2 separate regions of the Homo sapiens genome follow, and region 2 is linked to region 1. Evidence: fine-mapped expression QTL. A gene starts in region 1. The other region holds a variant in brackets. All regions are shown on one strand. Distances are between the middles of the regions. Region 1 holds the start of GLIPR2 (GLI pathogenesis related 2). Region 2 overlaps GLIPR2 (GLI pathogenesis related 2).

Region 1 (2,904 bases):
AACAGAAGGAGACCACGTCTCAGAAAGAAAGAAAAAAAAAAAGTAGCCTAAGGGAATTTGTGGATTTTCTCCACAAATTTCTACAGAGAAAGGAGTTGATTTCCCAAGCAGATATCTCGAAAGACTCGCTCTCATCTGCCATACTTTTGCTCCATCACCATCTGTCATCCTGTTAACTAAATGGCAACCCATTATATCACCTTTCCATACTGTGAAGAACCCCAGGGCTCATACGGCCACCCTCATTGTACAGACAGGGAGGAACAGAGGGAAGGAGGCTTGCTCAGTATCACACAGCCAGTGATTGGCTGGGCCAGGGCTGAAAGCCAGACCTGCCTCTACAGCCTAGGAAGGCTGGTTAGGACCAAGGCCAGGGAAAGCCACTTGCGCCCAGCGCTGGCATCTCCTGAGTCCAGATCTTGGAGGACAGATCCTAGAAGGGACCTAGCCTTACTCATCTGAAGTGGACAATCCGGATGAAGCAGGACTTCTGAATCCTGTTCAACAGCTGTTCTCTAAGAGCCTCCTGTGAGGCAGAAGCAATGCTGAGATAAACACGGCCCCTGGCAGCCAGGGGTGAGGACCCGGTGGGAAACAGGTCTATGGCTGAACTCTTGTCCCCGGCCCACTACAGGAAGGGCTGCAGCGAGGAAAACACCAGGTTGGGCGCTCCCTCCCGGGGGGAATCACAGATGGGCTCCAGCCCAGGAGCTGAGCCTAGAGGGATGGGATTTTCAGGCTGAGAGTTGGGGTGGTGAAGGCCCGGCAAGGAAACCTAGGGGAAGGGACCTGTGCACCAGCTTCTGGACAGCTCTAGTGTAGGGCGGAGGTAAGGGCTAGGGACCCACTCCCAGGGGCCCGAAGGCAGGACTGGAGTGTGTCCTTTCACTCTGAGGACAATGGTGAGGAAGGTGTTAGGGAGCGACAGGAGGAGAGCTGCGCTGCAGAAAGTTCATCCCGACAGCCACAGTAGAGAGGATGGGGTGCCCCAGGAGAAAGGGAGCCAGACCGAGCCTAGCACAGGGGGAGCCCGGCACGGCGCGGGCGCTCAGGAGAGAAGGAACAACAAATGGATGAGGGGGATGCTCAGGGCTGTCCTCGGGACAGCCGAGCGGGGCAAACTGCTTCGCAGCGAGAGCTGTTGTCACACTTTGGTGACTTTTCCAACTCTAAGTCTGGCCTCCTGAAACAAAGCAGAAGCCACGCCTTGGCGGGCCGCGGCGCGCAGCCCCTCAGGGTCGGGAAGCCCAACTTGGCGCGATCCCCGGCTCTCCGGCGGGGGCCTCCCTCGGGCTCGCCTTCCCCCCGGGTTCCCCGGAAACCGCGCCGGGGCGCTCCGCCCGCGCGCCCTCCACCCGCACCCCGGGCTCCCGCACTCCCCAGGACCTGGCTTGCGGCGGACGAGGGAGACGGCGAGGTCCGGGAGCGCGGGGTTCCGAACCATTCCGCAGCGGGCGAGCCCGCGGGCTCACCTGACTTGCCCATGGCCGGCTCCGCGCGCTCCTCGCTCCCCGCGGCTGCGCTGCACTGCGCTCGCCCGGCCCAGCGCCGCCCCAGAGCCCAGGACCGGGCTGATGCCGCGGCCCCTCCTCCGGCGCCGCCCGGCCCCCGCCTTATAAGGAGCGACAGCTGAGGGCGGAGGCGCCCGGGGCCACCCCGTGGGCCTCCCGGAGAGCTCACCCCTGGGAAGCAGCTCCGCGACTGCCGAGGGCTCCCCGGATGCGGCCGCGGGGCTCAAGCCTCCCGGACCCCACACCGAGCTGTCCCTTCCCGGGGCGCGTGGGGAAGCCCGCGCCTGCTGGGCCCCGGGTGGCTGCTCTGCGCCGACGCGCGGCGAGGACAGAGGGGCGCGCGGTCGCGGCACGAGGGGCGTTCCGGCCGGCGCCACCAGGGGACGGCCTCTCCCTGCCGCGGCCTGACACGACACACGCAGCCCCGGGGTGTGCCCCCATCTCCGGTGACTCTGGGCTCCGGAGGGCGGCTGGTCCGGGGAGGGGGATGCTCCTCTCCTAGGACACGCCCTCTAATGCCAGTCGGGGTGGAAGCGCCGCCGCCTCTGACCCGTCCACTCGCCCCTCATTGCCTCCCAGACCAAGCCAATTCCCACCCCTGCAGTCTGGCCCCAGACCTGTCTCCCCAACGCCCCACCTTTTCCCCATACTCCAGTCAAACTAGATGTCTTGTCATTCCCCAAACATGTTCTGGGATTTCCCACCTCCCTGCCTTTCCTCAGGCGGTCCCTCCTCCGGGAGTGCTGGCCCTGGAGCCACCATTCCAGTGCTGCCCATCCCTCGGGGTCGGCCGGTCTTTCCAACTGCCAGGTGCCCTGACCCTGGGAGCAGCACACACCAGGTACTGGGGAGATGTGGTCCCACCCATGGCCCCTGCCCCGTGGGAGAAGTGCACTTACTTGACCGCACAGCCCTAGTCACCTGTGCCAGACTTCCCGCAAGCGCTCCTTTCTGGGGAAGGGGCTCAGTACACCCCAAATGAAGGAAGCGAATTTTAAGGCTTTTCAATGAATGGGCACTGAAGTGAGCTGACCCACTGATGATAAGGCTAGAATTTGTAATACCAACGGCTTACGAATGTCCCGCAGGGCGATGGCTGGGCACTGTGCTCTCTATTCCTTTCCCCATGTCAGGCAAATACACCTACTGTATTTTAGTACCGTCATGAGTAATGACATTTCAGTCAATGCCAGACCACATATACTGTGGTAGTCCCAAGAGATTATGATACCATATTTTTACTATGTTTCTATGTTTACATCTGTTTATATATGCAAATTTTTACCATTGTGTTACAGTCACCTAAAGTATTCAGTATGGGTCAAATTGGTGCCCAACCCTGATTCAAAAGGGACTCCTGGGGCTGGGTGCGGTGGCTCACGCCTGTAATCCC
Region 2 (2,904 bases), 20 kb before region 1:
AGGAAGTGGAGAAATTGGAACTTCTGTGCACTGCTGATGGGAATGTAAAATGGCACAGCTGCTCTGGAAGACAGTATGGCAGTTCCTCAAAAAATTAAACAGAATTGCAATGACTCAGCAATTCCACTTCTAGGTATATACCCAAAAGTACTGAAAGCAGGGATTCAGATATTTATACGCCCATGCTCCTAGCAGAGAGGTTGAAAGATTGGCCCAAAGTCACATAGCCCGGTCGGGCGCAGTGGCTCACGCCTGTAATCCCAGCACTTTGGGAGGTTGAGGTGGGCGGATCACTTGAGGTCAGGAGTTCAAGACCACCCTGGCCAATGTGATGAAACCCCGTCTCTACTAAAAATAGAAAAATTAGCCAGGTGTGGTGGCACACGCCTGTAATCCTAGCTACTGGGGAGGCTGAGGAAAGAGAATTGCTTGAACCTGGGAGGCAGAGGTTGCAATGAGCCGAGACTGTGCCATTGCACTCCAGCCTGGGTAACAGAGTGAGACTCCATCTCGAAAAAACAAAAAACAAAAAAAAAACCCACAAAGACACACAGCCCAAGTGTCCATCAACAAGTGAAAGGATAAGCAAAATGTGGGAGATATATATGTATATATGTGTATATATATATGTGTGTGTGTGTGTGTGTGTGTGTGTGTGTTTAACAGATATTATTCAGCTTTAAAAAGAAATTCTGAGGCCGGGCGTAGTGGCTCATGCCTGTAATCCTAGCACTTTGGGAAGCTAAGGCGGGTGGATCACCTGGGGTCAGGAGTTTGAGACTAGCCGGGCCAATGTGGTGAAACCCCGTCTCTACTAAAAATATAAAAATTAGCTGGTCATGGTGGTGGGTGCCTGTAACCCCAGCTACTTGGGAGGCTGAGGCAGGAGAGTCGCTTGAACCTGGGAGGCAGAGGTTGCAGTGAGCCAAGACTACACCACTGCACTCCAGCCTGGGCGACAGAATGAGACTCCATCTCAAAAAAATAAAAAATAAAAAAATAAAAATAAAAAAGAGACTGGGTGTGGTGGATCATGCCTGTATTCTCAGCACTTTGAGAGGCCAAGGTGGGCAGATCAAGAGGTCAGGAGTTCGAGACCA[G/T]CCTGGCCAACATAGTGAAACCCCATCTCTACTAAAAATACAAAAAAAAAAAAAAAAAATTAGCTGGGCATGATGGCGGGTGCCTATAATCCCAGCTACTCAGGAGGCTGAGGCAGGAGAATCGCTTGAACTCGGGAGGCAGAGGTTACAGTGAGCCAAGATCACGCCATTGCACTCCAGCCCGGGCAACAGTGTGAGACTCCGTCTCAAATAAAATATAATAAAATAAAATAAATTAAAATAAAAAGGAATTCTGACACGTGCTCTAATAAGGGTAAACCTTGAAAACATGATGCTAAGTGAAATAAGCCAGACACAAATGGGCAAATATTGTATGATTCCATTTATATGAGGTAGCTAGAATAGTTAAAACCAAAAGTAGAACAATGGTTGGGGTGGGGTGGAGATGGTTTCAGGATGAAACTGTTCCACCTCAGATCATCAGGCATTAGATTTTCATAAGGAGCATGCAACCTAGATCCCTTGCGTGAGGAATTCATAATAGGGTTCATGCTCCTATGAGAATCTAACGCCACTGCTGATCTGACAGGAGGCGGAGCTCAGGCAGTAATCTTACTCACCCAGGCTCACCTCCTGCTGTGCGGCCCAGTTCTTAACAGGCCATGGGCCCATACAGGTCCACTGCCCAGGAGTTGGGGTCCCCTGGTCTAAGGGGTACTGAGTTTTAATCTGTGAAGATGAAAAGAATTCTAGAGATGGATGGTGGCGATGATTGCATAACAGTGTAAATGTGTTTAATCCCACTGAACTGTATACCTAAAATGGTTAAAATGGTAAATTTTCAGTTATATGTGCTTTACTACAATTTCTTTTTTTTTTTTTTTTTTTTTTTTTTTAGACATGGCTTCACTCTGTTGTCCAGGCTGGAGTGCCGTGGTGCAATCATGGTTCACTGCAACCTCCAACTCCTTGACTCAAGCAATCCTCCCACGTCAGCCTCCTGTAACCAGGACCACAGGCACGTGCCACTACACCCAGCTAGTTTTTTAATTTTTTAATTTTTTAATTTTTTGAGATGGAGTCTTGCTCTGTCACCCAGGCTGGAGTGCAGTGGTGCAATCTTGGCTTACTGAAACCTTCGCCTCCCAGATTCAAGCGATTGTTGTGCCTCAGCCTCCCAAGTAGCTGGGATTACAGGCGTGCGCCACCATGCCTGGCTAATTTTTGTATTTTTAGTAGAGATAAGGTTTCACCATGTTGGCCAGGCTGGTCTCGAACTCCCAACCTCAGGTGATCCGCCCACCTCAGCCTCCCAAAGTGCTGGGATTACAGGTGTGAGCTGCCGTGCCCAGCCTAGTTTTTAATTGTTTTTGTAGAGATGGGGTCTTGCCATGTTGTCCAGGCTGGTCTGGAGCTCCTGGATGAAGGGATCCTCTTGCCTTGGCCTCCCAAAGTACTGGAGTTACAGGAATAAGCCACCACACCCAGCCTATTTTACTAAAAAATTAAAAAAAGAAAGTAGGAGAGAGAGGAAGAGACTGGTGTACACACTCTTCTAGTTCTTTAGGGAAGAGACAAAGTCGGTCCTTCCCATTGCATCCTGTGTATGGTAAGGACTGAAATAAATGTTTGTAGATTAAATTCTATTTTTTCTCCTGTAGTTAAACTCCATTTAAAACTTTTTTTTTTTGAGACAGTCTCACTCTGTTGCCCAGCCTGGAGTGCAGTGGCACGATCTCATGTCACTGCAACCTCCGCCTCCTGGGTTCAAGTGATTCTCCTGCCTCAGCCTCCTGAGTAGCTGGGATTACAGATGCACGCCACCACATCCGGCTAATTTTTG

What was found. PIP is the estimated chance that this variant, and not a neighbour inherited with it, causes the effect.
Region 2: its variant is the best candidate, but not a certain one, in a credible set for the expression of GLIPR2 in whole blood (INTERVAL, PIP 0.74).

Annotation. Positions count from the first base shown.
Region 1 is chr9:36,135,360-36,138,263 of GRCh38, reverse strand. It overlaps GLIPR2 (GLI pathogenesis related 2), which reads right to left and starts at 1,531. Exons shown (of 5, transcript NM_022343.4): 1 at 1,473-1,531. The coding sequence starts at 1,485. RefSeq lists silencers at 1,230-1,279, 1,310-1,879.
Region 2 is chr9:36,155,439-36,158,342 of GRCh38, reverse strand. The region is part of intron 4 of GLIPR2 (GLI pathogenesis related 2); the gene reads right to left. Among named protein-coding and RNA genes, the nearest start is that of CCIN, 12 kb to the left of the region's middle. The variant G/T (reference allele first, on the strand shown) is at 1,101.